Homo sapiens: one gene and its partner. The protein of the gene in region 1 interacts with the protein of each later gene in a pairwise test. Each region holds a gene or a part of one and is shown in the gene's direction. Other genes may lie near its edges.

Region 1 (7,296 bases):
TTGACATTATTACATATTGTTAAATATTGTTGAATACTGTTAACAGTGTTAAATATTGTTGAAAATCCCAAAGATCTTTTATTTATCTAGGTTATATTTATCTATGTTACTTGTTAATGTTTAAAACTAAGGAAAGTTTAAATTATATATTAATTTAAATATTAAAAATAATAAATTAATTACATGTTAACAGTTAAAATTCTTATAAAATAACAGTAAAAATTGTTACACTTTTTCTTCTTTTTGTACTTACAAAATAAGTACATTTTCCAAAACAGTACAATTTAGTGGGAAGAATGACATTGTTATGCATTTTTCCAAATGTTTTTAGTATTTTGCTTAAGACAGGTGGATTCTCATATCTCCTTCTGCATTTAGTCTGTTACAATATGTAGTTTTAGCTGAAGCATATATAAAGGCAATCTGACATGATATAAAATTAGAAAAGAGAGTAGTATTTTGATGATAATTACAGATCACTGTGGATATTATTCCTTGATACTACATGAATACTTGATAAGGAGTAGCTTGTTTCCTAAATGTTTTTGGTAATGTGGACTCTGAATCCTCAACAATGACCTTTTGTACTTTATTACGTTAAAATCCATTGCTCTATCTTACACTTTGAGTGACCATTTTACCAGTACATCATTCTATATTGTGCATTGGTCATTTGGAAAATATTGGTTCACCAAGTAATGCAGAGCTTCCAAATATTGACACATTGCATTAAATAATATCAAAAAGATCACCTCTTTACTTCCATTGATATCACATTGGTTGATAAAGGTTTTCCAAGCTTCTCATTTTTGTTTGAAATCTCCAATTTATCATTGGCAACAAATAGTTGTTTTCCCTGAAGTGACAGATTAACTTTATGTTTTACAAAATACTTTCATAAAACTATAGTCTGCATAGCCATAGATGTCTATGTGAAAATAGCATTCTATGGAAAAAAAAAAAAAGCAAAAACTCAACAGCTTGTTCAGCTCCTAAATCAAACAATCACAGAAGTGCTTTTCTTTGAATAGATTCTTCTGAAATAATCAGTTGAAAACACTTGTCCAGTGAAGGTGTTTATCCAGTGGTGCTCTCTAGTAACTTTTTGACCTCAGGATTCCGGTTTTCTTCAGTTGCCTACAACCTTTTAGTCCCTTTAAACATCAGAATTTCTCTTCCATCTGAAGATAGCATAAGTTAATACTTAGGGTATCAAACTTCATTTCCTTGTTTCATTAGCCAGTTAATTATTTCCAATAAATTTTAGTTCACTACAAACAAAATATGTATTCCTTCTTGAAAGTACAGTAGCATGATGTTTTAAAATTTTTCAGTTGAAATAAGGCCATTATTTTTCAAGTCTACACATGTGATTGGTTATGAGGGAGGAGTAAATCTGGAAAATTATGTGTGTTAAAAGCAGGAAGATCAAGAGAAACTTTAGTTTTATTTTAGATAATGCCTAAGGAAAAGAAAGTTTCAGAGATGATGGAATTAAGGGAAGAATCTTTGTAAGAGAAGGGTGAACATTCTAGGTAGAAGATGAGGATAGATTTTAACATGCTATTTTGTCTTATGAAAAGAGATAAATTAGGTAGGAAAGGTAAGCATCACCATCTTATAGAAGAAGAAACCTAGACAAAGTGAATTTTCCAATTGCCCAAGATTGTGTCTCTTATTTTTGGAGTTGGAAATAGAACCCAAGTCTCCTAATGCTCAGTCCGGAAAGCATTATTACTGTATTGTTTTTAATTCTCCCATATCTCAATCACTTATGATAAATGAAAGTTATAAGGAGAAACACTTTAAAATATTTAAATGCTTCAGATGTTTAAAAATATTTTTTAAGGTAGTGATGAGTTTTCAACAATATCTGATAAATTGAAAGCCTTAAGAGCCAGATTCTATTTTCCACAGAAAGAAAAAAACCTACATAGCCCCAGACCTTTATCTTCATGTCAGTTTAGATGATCTCTTAAATGTAACATAAACCCTTAAAATCTATATTTTTTGCAGGAAGAAATTTCATTTTATTGTTTTGTTAAAAGACTATTTTAAGAGTCATTGCTGTCTATTTTTTTGAACATAAGAATGTACTTTGGCTAGGAGATAAAGGTTTTGATTAATTACCAGGCAATTTTAAATGCACTTGTGGCAAATAGCTCTTCTTTTTCTGTTGAATAAAGACAAAACCAATTGAATCTATATTCTGTAAGTTAATAGCACTATAAATTTGAGAAACTATTCAATTTTCATAAATTGATTAAAAATTCCTAGTGTGATTCTCCTGCCTCGCTTGAACCCGGGAGGCAGAGGTTGCAGTGAGCCAAGATCACACCACTGCACTCCAGCCTGGGCAACAGAGCGAGACTTCGTCTCAGAAAAGAAAAAGAAAGAAAAGAAAAGAAAAATTACTAGTGAGAGAAAATTCTTCTAATACACGAATGCTGTGAAATGTAATAATGCACTTCTTAAATTCTTAGTGCAAAAAAATTATGGAGTGTAAAGTAAGATTTCAATTATAATGTTGGTGCTTTCCCCCAATAATTAAATTCTTTTTTTGTTTTCAGTTAATTGACAAGTACCAGTTGAAAATAAAAGTACAAGACATGGATGGTCAGTATTTTGGTCTACAGACAACTTCAACTTGTATCATTAACATTGATGATGTAAATGACCACTTGCCAACATTTACTCGTACTTCTGTAAGTGTATGATATTAATTAAAGAAAAATGTATAGACCAGTTTTAATTGTTTAATATGCACATCTCTGGCCTGGCGCAGTGGCTCACGCCTGTAATCTCAGCACTTTGGGAGGCCGAGGCGGGCGGATCACCTGAGGTCAGGAGTTTGAGAACAGCCTGGCCAACATGGTGAAATCCCGTCTCTACAGAAAATACAAAAATTAGCCGGGCATGGTGACAGGCACCTGTAATCCCATCTACTCGGGAAGCTGAGGCAGGAGAATCGCCTGAACGTGGAAGGCAGAGGTTGCAGTGAAGGAAAAGAAAAAAATGCACATCCCCATCCACCCCTCATGATTTCAAATGAAGTGCCCCAGTGACATTAAAAGTTGTATAGTGCTAGGGTTTCAAATCATGTAAACATAGTACTTTGGAAATTAGAAGAGTAGGATTTACTTCACATCGTGTTCAATTTTTGTGAGAGTTACTAACGAAATTTTTTGTTTGCTTTTATTATTTTAGTATGTGACATCAGTGGAAGAAAATACAGTTGATGTGGAAATCTTACGAGTTACTGTTGAGGATAAGGACTTAGTGAATACTGCTAACTGGAGAGCTAATTATACCATTTTAAAGGGCAATGAAAATGGCAATTTTAAAATTGTAACAGATGCCAAAACCAATGAAGGAGTTCTTTGTGTAGTTAAGGTAAGAATAAATTAGAACATTATTTGTAGTTTATAATATCATAGAATAGCATGCTAGAATTTAATGGAAAGAAAGGAATTCTGATAAATGTAGAATAAAATAGGTATATAAGTAAATGCAAATGCTCTGTTCTTCATATACAATGGAAAGAATATATTAGTTTTTGATAATCTTTTGTTTAGGTATTTTTTTTTTTAAAAAGTCCATATAATACAATATCTATTTTGTAACCAATATCTTTAAATGGTTCAAAAACTAGCACAGCTTTGATGCCCCTGGGACAGTGCCAGACTTTTCCTAGCCCAGTTTTTCTGTGTTTGGGTCAAGGAGCCTTTATTTACTTACTGAATTTCCCAAATCAAGAGTTACTCTTGGTCAGCCCCATGGAGAGGTTATTCATAGGTTTGTTCATCATATTCAGTATATATTACATCCTTAGCATCCAGGTTCAGAATGAAAATCCTCAGTGATTCAACAATGCAAACACTTCTAAAACTTCTTTCTAATACTATTTCAGCAGCCAGAGTTAGTGCATAAAGCAATCTGAGCTCCTTTAGCCTTGGACAAATTTATAGACTTATTTCTGCTGCATCTTTAACCAGAACATGGTTTTACAGTGGGTCTATGCCGTTTTCTTTTTGTATATATTCACAAGGACCATGGATTAAAAAATGATGAATCCATTTTCCTTACAATGATGAAAATCAGCTGCTGTTTTTATATTATTTTCTCTATTTTAAAATAGCAGAGAAATTTCCTTTAAATCTTGTCTCTTTCTTCACCTAACCCCTCCCCTAATCCTTGGTATTCTCAGAAGGAAATTTGTGTGAAGTCCAAGACCTGAAAAAATTTCTGTCTTCTAGGGCATGGTTTCACTAATTCTCATTACAACTACATATCAGGCAAGATAAAATAAAACCTTTTATTAAATATGTTCCCGTCTTTAAGACAGGAACTGGAATGGAAGACACACATAAAAAAAGAAAATATGATGCCCATAAGCTTTGTATTTTCTTGTCTTGCTCCTCTTAAAAGCATTTTAAAAAAATTTACCCATTTTTTTCTCTTCCTCATACCAGGTACAAATAATTTTATTCATCTTAGGAGGGTAAGACAAGCTGTCCTAAAATTTATTTTGTAGTAAATAACTATTGTTTATAGTATGAATCCCCTAAAGGAGTATCTCATGTATTAATATCCAAGAACCCTCATTAAATACTCTCTGAAATCTTCATCAATACCTGTTATACTACTTATCTTAAATTTGCAGTTGAAGAACAATTTTCTGTCCTTTTTTTTTTCCAGCTTTACCCAAGTACTGAATCAGTGGGAGAACTCCTCTGTCTCCACCACCACTGGGTTTCTGGGTGTATTAGTCTGTTCTCACATTGTTATAAAGAACTACCTGAGACTGGATAGTTTATAAACAAAAGAGGTTTAACTGACTCGCAGTTCCACAGGCTGTGTAGGAGGCATGACTAGGTAGGCCTCAGGAAACTTATAATCATGGCGGAAGGCAAAGGGGAAGCAAGCCCATCTTCACATGGCAACAGGAGAGACAGAGCAAAGGGGGATGTGCTACACACTTTTGAACAACCAGATCTTGTGAGAACTCACTCACTATCATGAGCAGTGGGGAAATCCACCCCCATGATCCAATCACCTTCCCTCAGGTCCCTCCCCCAACATTGGGAATTACAATTTGACATGAGATGTGGGTGGCGACACAGAGCCAAACCATATCACTGGATATATGTTTCATATTCTCGTGGTTATTCCCAACATGACACTTAACATATTTCCAAATTTAACATTATATATACTCGTTAGCATTGCCAAATATTAAATGAGTTCATCTGATTTTTCAATACATTTGCTTTCGTAGCCTTTGAATTATGAAGAAAAGCAACAGATGATCTTGCAAATTGGTGTAGTTAATGAAGCTCCATTTTCCAGAGAGGCTAGTCCAAGATCAGCCATGAGCACAGCAACAGTTACTGTTAATGTAGAAGATCAGGATGAGGGCCCTGAGTGTAACCCTCCAATACAGACTGTTCGCATGAAAGAAAATGCAGAAGTGGGAACAACAAGCAATGGATATAAAGCATATGACCCAGAAACAAGAAGTAGCAGTGGCATAAGGTACTTACCATTCTATTTTAGTTTTAAAATATATAGCTTATTTTGTTACGTTATTATAATTTAGCATATGATAAATTTTATTATTTTAATTCATCATTACCAACAGGTATAAGAAATTAACTGATCCAACAGGGTGGGTCACCATTGATGAAAATACAGGATCAATCAAAGTTTTCAGAAGCCTGGATAGAGAGGCAGAGACCATCAAAAATGGCATATATAATATTACAGTCCTTGCATCAGACCAAGGTAAGAATTTGTCTTTAAGCCAGCTACATACTTCCTTGGCTACATACATCTTCAGTGTTTAAGCCAACAGTATACATTTTAAAGCTGGATACATGCACTCTGTTTTCATATCTCTTGATAATATAAAGTAAGAGGTTTACTATAATTTATTAACTCATGTCTGCTTTCTAATAGCCTTCTCAGTTTTAGATGTAATTATAAAATAATTTACTCTTAGAAACACTTGAGACCATAATTTATTAAAGTTAAAATTATTAAAAATTGAGAAAATTATTTTAGTAAAACTTGTTTCAGCTGGGTGTGGTGGCTCATGCCTGTAATCCCAGCACTTTGGGAGGCTAAGGCTGGAGGATCACTTGAGGTCATGAGTTCGAGACCAGCCTGGCCAACATGGTGAAATCCCGTCTCTACCAAAAATATTAAAAATTAGCTGGGTGTAGTGGCATGCACCTGTAATCCGAGCTACTCGGGAGGCTGAGGCAGGAGAATTGCTTGAACCCAGGAGGTGGAGGTTGCAGTTAGCCAAGATCGCGCCACTGCACTCTAGCCTGGGCGACAGAGTAAGACTCTGTCTCAAAACAAAAACAAAAACAAAAACAAAACAAAAACAAAAACAAAACTTGTTTCAGTTTATCTACTTATTTCGCTTAAAGTGTTCACTTTGTAGGAAAGTGAGAACATACTTACATAGTGCAGTCCTGGAAAACATACTTACACAGTGCAGTCCTGGAAAACAGCTCTAACTTTTTACAGGAAGCTAACAATATACTTGGGGGTTAGAATTCTGATTAAAGACATTATATAAAAATAAATCATGGTATATTTATGATCATGGTAAATAAATAGTATATTATAAAATTAGAGAGACAAACACTATGAATTCATATAATCATATAAAATGTAAAATTATGTTCTGTGCATTCTATAAAATTGAGAGAAATATGAGTATGATGATTATTTATGAGACGCGTTTGGTGCATAAAATATAATTTCTATAACATGAATTTGAACTTTATGTCTTTGTAAAATAAATATGCTAAATATAACAAACAAATTATTATACTATAACTTGCAAAATTAGAATTTAGAAGTGATTTTGGAAGATGATTTATGTATTCCAGTTCTCTGTAAATTAATGAGAAATGACTCAGTTTGTTAAATTGCTGAAGTTGTAATCATTATTGATTTGTCTTTAACTAATTAAAGACTGTCCTTTAAGGCCTCAGATTCTCATGTCTTTTTGCCAAGAAATACTTGTTGGTCAAAGGCAAATGAAAAGAAAAAAAAAACATGAAACTCAACGGCACTTGGAAATAGTTTATTGACAGTTGAGATAAAAATTGCTGTCTGAAATTAGAAATTTTGCCTATAATTTTATTCTACATTCTCGTCTGTTGCAGAGGAGTTTAAGTGATTGAGAGATCAAATATTTGTTATGGAATTGAGATGGGGCACTGCTTATCATCATTGTGATATAGAATAAATGTGTAATGAGGCTGTTCGCATTCATTT
Region 2 (5,819 bases), on another chromosome or scaffold:
CTCCAGAACTTCTCTTGGTTGTGCATTCCAGCATTGTATTGGCCTAATGAATTAGTTTCCCAAAGCCACAGCTGTGATTTAATAACAGCAGAATGTAGGCAAAGCAGGAGTCCTCTGAATAGGCAAGTGCCCTTTTCCTCACTTCCATCTTAGGAGGGGATGTCACACCAGGTGGTTTAGAAGAAGCAGTGATGGGCTGGGCACAGTGGCTCATGCCTGTAATCCCAGCACTTTGGGAGGCCCAAGCAGATGGATCACTTGAGGTCAGAAGTTCGAGACCAGCCTGGCCGACATGGCAAAACCCTGTCTCTAGTAAAAATACAAAAATTAGCTGGGTGTGGTGGTGCGTGTCTGTAATTCTAGCTACTTGGAAGACTGAGGTTTGAGAATCACTTGAGCCCAGGAGGCAGAGGTTGCAATGAGCCGTGATCGTGCCACTGCACTCCAGCCTGGTTGACAGAGTGAGATTCTGTCTCAAAAAAGAAAAAAAAAAAAAAGCAGCAGCAGCAGTGATGACACAGGAGAAGCAGTCAGGGGGTAGCCTGATGAGAAAGTCTTGCTTTCACAGTTTTTTCTCTGTCTTATCTCTTCCGCATCTTATTCCCTTTTGATAATAGAAGGTCCAATGCATGTCATTCCACATCTGTGTTCCTGTTTTCAACTTTTCCCTATTAAAAAAAAAAAGGAGGAGAATGAAAAACCTTGTATAACCAAATTATTTACTATTAGTTAATTTAGAGTGATGAGATTGGAAAGGGGCATGAAGATTATCTTTTTCTCTTTATACAATTCTGAATTGTTTGACTTATTACAAATAGATATGTTACTTTTGTAAATAACCAAACAAGAAAAGAAATGGCTATGATAGCCTAGTTTTAATGAGTTACAAAGCAGATGACTTCACCTGTACTGAAGAAATGTGTGCTTGGCTGTACAGGGATGTACATGTTACCTCTACTACAGCCCCACCCAATTTAGGCCCCTTCTGCTCTGCAGCCCCACTCTGCAGTGCACACAAGGAAGGAAGACTGCATTTAGAGTCAGATTAAAACAAGCCCTGAGCACTGGCTGGAGTGTCAGTTCCCCAAGAATATTCACCCATCCCCAGAGGCTGGCAGATAGTATTAGAGTTGCTCAGTCTTTGTGGAAAGAGTGAATTACTGTTGCAAAACAGAAATGACTTTTCTTCCAAATAGTCATCCAAACTTCCAAGCAAATCACCGTAAGATAGTATGATGCTCATTATTCGAGTATTCAGACATAACAATTGTTGCACATGGCAATATGCAATTACTTTTGGAAACTTCTGGTAGCTTAGCAAGATAAGGGGTGAGCTACTCTGTTACTTGTTTATTTCCGAGTGTCCACTTGTGAGTCCTCACATGCCCTGTCTCAAAAACAAAAGTTAACAAGGAGCTTCTTGCCAGTGGTGTCTGCTGCTCTTTCCTTACTAGAGTGTTATATATCTGACCTACCGTTTGTGGACTAGCCTGGGAACTAATTATCATTTATAACATTACATCTTTGAATAAAAGAGTACCAAGTATCAAACAACCAACTTATAAACAAATATTATGAATATAACAGCCTTGCAATTTAATAACTTTTTACAGTTTTGAATATTAGAGACCCATCACTTTGATGGATTTATTTGCCCTTCAGTTATTACCAAGTGATTCTGAAAAGTCCAGGGGTTACTAATAAGTGCTGATTTGACTGCTCCTCCCTGCCAGGCTAGTATGGAGGAGAAAGACTTTTCACTCTTGAAGGAACACACCATGCTCTTCTCCGTACATCTTTGCACTCTCTGGTTTTGGTTTTATGTTTACAAATGCCTGTGATATGGGGGGAAAAAGAATCTTTGTTTAAGAAAAAAAATCAGCCATGTGCTAATCAGGTGATAGAAGAGAAAGAGATCTAAGGCGGCACTGATCTAAGCCAGAGGTGGGACATTTAGGATAAAGTTAAAAGCAGAACATGGGCTGGGCACAGTGGCTCACATCTGTAATCCCAGCACTATGAGAGGCCGAGGCAGGCGGATCATGAAGTCAGGAGATCGAGACCACCCTGGCTAACACAGTGAAACCCCATCTCTACTAAAAATACAAAAAATTAGCCTGGCGTGGTGGCATGCGCCTGTAGTCCCAGCTACTTCGGAGGCTGAGGCAGGAGAATCGCTTGAACCTGGGAGACGGAGGTTGCAGTGAGCCGAGATCGCTCCACTGCACTCCAGCCTCAAAAAAAAAAAAAAAAAAAAAAAAGCAGAATATGAAAGACTAAGTACAGTTCAAATGCAGTGGTGACTTTGATTTATAGCAAGAACAAGTTTTCCATTTGCTCTATATGGAAACGTAAAGAGATTTTGAAACTGCTTTAACAAGGGCTGCCACAAGAATTTCTTTTATTGACTTGAAAAATTACTCCTACATTCATGATGTCACAAAATCGTATGTATTTTTCAGTCATGGTTTCATGCATTTTTATTCTATAAACATACATTATAAGTATACAAATATAGATTATATTCTATAAATAATTCAAGGATTTATAACATATCTAAAGATACATTCCTTATAAATATCAGGGATTTTTCTGTATAAATTACTTGTTTGTTTATTATTATTATTATTATTTTGAGATGGAGTCTAGCTTTGTCACCAGGCTGGAGTGCAGTGGCGTGATCTCGGCTCACTGCAACCTCCGCCTCCCGGGTTCAAGTGATTCTCCTGCCTCAGCCTCCCGAGTAGCTGGGATTACAGGCACACACTGCCACGCCCAGCTAGATTTTGTATTTTTAGTACAGACGGGGTTTCACCATGTTGGCCAGGATGGTCTGACCTCGTGATCTACCCACCTCAGCCTCCCAAAAGTGCTGGGATTACAGGCGTGAGCCACCCCACCTGGCCTATAAACTATTTATTTATTAGCACTGTGCTAGTGGTTTAAAAAGAAAACAAAAACAGATATGGTCCCCGCCTTGCAGAGCTTGCTGCCTAATTGTCTGGTCACCGAGTGGCCTGACTTCATGGATGGCTGCTGCGGAGTAGCAGTTGAGGAGCGAAGAGGTCTTACAGAACACCCACAGGCCGCATCCAGAAGCCTCACTCATTCTCCCTGATCTCAGAATGTCCTTTTCTTTTCAGCTATGCCTCCAACAAAGCAAGTAAAGCTGCTTCCGTCCTTCTGTATTCTCTGTGGGCACACACGGAACTGCATCATGCCTACAAGAAGGTAAGAACATGAACAAGGAATGTGTCATAGTTAACAGAGCCAGGTAATAATGGCCCACTTGACTTGACCCTGGGAAGAAATCGCTAAAAAACTGCATTTTCTTGTGTGCCAGTTTTGTTACCTTTCACGTTTCTGTTTGCTTATTCCAAAGGCTCAGTTTAAGAAGACAGATTTTGTCAACAGCCGGACTGCCAAAGCCTACCACTCCCTTAAAGACTGAGGAAAATGACAAAGTATTCTCGGCTGCAAAAATCCCCAAAGGAAAACACCTATTTTTCTACTACCCAGCCCAAGAAACCTCAAAAGCATGCCTTGTTTCTATCCTTCTCTATTTCCGTGGTCCCCTGAATCCAGAAAACAAATAGAACATAATTTTATGAGTCTTCCAGAAGACCTTTGCAAGTTTGCCACCAGTAGATACCGGCCACAGGCTCGACAAATAGTGGTCTTTGTTATTAGGGCTTATGGTACATGGCTTCCTGGAATCAAAATGTGAATTCATGTGGAAGGGACATTAATCCAATAAATAAGGAAAGAAGCTGTTGCATTACTGGGATTTTAAAAGTTTGATTTACATTTATATTCCTTTTCTGGTTCCCATGTTTTGTCACTCATGTGCACATTGCTTCGCCATTGGGCCTCCAGTGTATTGTTCTGCAGTGTTGAAACAGAATGGAAATGACAAGAAATATCTGCAGTTATCCAGGAGAAAGTATAATGGCAAAATTATTGGTTTCTTTCTTTACTTTGTGCTTGTTTTTATCCCCTTGGGTTGTTTTTCTCTGATTTTTAAATAAACTTAAGAAATTTAGATTACAGAGTATGCATGACTGTAAGAAAAAGAAATTGAGAGGAAGTGATCATAGCAAATTAAAGAAGTCTTTTCCTCCCAGAACTTAAAGTAAAATAAAAAATAAATAAATAAATAAAATCTTTTCCACAGAGAAAGGCAACTGTGATGATAAAATTTAACGTTCCCCCAAACACTGAGTCAATGAGATTTTTCTCAGGAGATACTTTACCTATAACAACGCCGTTAAATCCAAATCTCTTCTAAACGATGGCATTCTATGTAATGCCTTTCCTGGACTTTTTTGGCCACTGCCCTGGACTAGTGAAAGAATGGACTCTATCTTTATCTGCAAGAGGAACTAAGGCCTTCTCTCAGACTGCCTGGCCAGCCTGGGGCACTGAAAATACGGCTCATGTTAATGAGTTACATTATCAGCCAGCCCAGCCTTGCCCACCATTTAAGAAATATCACAGAGCCACTAGATCTCATATGATCTTCTTCAAGCCATTATTTTAACTCAAGAAAACTCTAGAGAAGAAAAGTGAAGAAGTCATGTTGAAGAAGATGTAAGAATGTGTCAAGACCATCCAGAAATGATATGAGAAATACTGATATTTTAAATGGTTGACATCATCCAGCGAAATGAATCTACATTAAATGTTGTTTTAACTGCGCTATGATTAAAACCATTCATATAGAGTTAGTCTTTACAACTACTATTCTGTTATTTTTTTTTTTAATCTGACAACATTTGTCCTAAGTAAGATAAGCAAAAAAATTCTTCAACTCCTTTTGGCAAGAAAACTGTAACAGAAAATAAATTTTGAATGTGTACTTAAGTCTTTATTATATTTGAAGCAATTTTTTTTCAATTTTAAAAGCTGAATGAAGACAACTTAGGTTGCTAACCTAGTTCAAAATGAAATTATTTAGATACCAATTTTTAAAATACTGGAGAGAATTTATATGTCTTTTTCCAGAGTTCTGATGATAAGCATTTGGAGTGCATTTATTCCTCCAGATAATAAATGTGTGTTCAGAACTTTTTGTGTTTTTTAAGGCATTAATAAAGCCTTCGATAATATTAAATACAAAATGAGACCAAAGTAGTGTTGCTTGCATTGGCGTCTGTGTATATCTGGTTTATTTGTGTATCTTGGAATATATGGTATGATTGACATAAAATTTGAGGATTTAACCTTATAAACTTCAATTACTAAGGGTTTGATACTTTGTAATTAGTTATATTTTCCCCTTAATTAAAATCCTAAATTTTTACCAAGAGACATTTCCTGTGAGAATGGTGGGACTAGATGGTGACCTGACCATAAAAATGAAGACACATGCAGACGTGTTAGCTGCGGTTAGATTTTAGTATATTATTGGGTGATTCTGTGACTGTGAAAAGACAGACTACGTTTGATTTCCATGTGCTGCTTTGTTCACTCTGTTTGCAAACACCTCACTACTTTACAATTTGTGAACACCTCTCAGGGAGGTTCTTCTGTGAATGAACAGTTTTGATCACAGGTCTATACATAAATGTGTTTGTTTTCCTATGTGTCCCAGACAGGGCCCATGCCTTCAGAGAAACTAATGGGCAAAGCTGGGCCTTTTTGTTTATTTGTTCCAAAGGGCTGCTCTCTGTCAAGAATTCTTAATGGTCTTCTGGAATGAAGGGGGTTGCTGCCCTAGATTTCCATCACTGGAAACGTTTGTGTAGATCTGATGGCAATAACCAAAGGGTTATCTGATAAAATAGAGAGGGGATTAACATGTCAAGTGGGAGAATAAG

The links.
Region 2: the proteins of DSC2 (region 1) and PKP2 interact in a two-hybrid assay, tested with the Homo sapiens proteins (one study listed by BioGRID).

Annotation. Positions count from the first base shown.
Region 1 is NC_000018.10:31,078,335-31,085,630, reverse strand, and holds part of DSC2 (desmocollin-2 isoform Dsc2a preproprotein), read left to right. Parts: intron 1-2,570; coding exon 2,571-2,705; intron 2,706-3,207; coding exon 3,208-3,393; intron 3,394-5,278; coding exon 5,279-5,535; intron 5,536-5,641; coding exon 5,642-5,784; intron 5,785-7,296. UniProt on the Homo sapiens protein: A component of desmosome cell-cell junctions which are required for positive regulation of cellular adhesion.
Region 2 is NC_000012.12:32,790,056-32,795,874, reverse strand, and holds the end of PKP2 (plakophilin-2), read left to right. Parts: intron 1-3,143; coding exon 3,144-3,231; intron 3,232-3,382; coding exon 3,383-3,451; coding exon of another isoform or gene 3,452-3,596; 3' UTR 3,597-5,120; downstream 5,121-5,819. UniProt on the Homo sapiens protein: A component of desmosome cell-cell junctions which are required for positive regulation of cellular adhesion.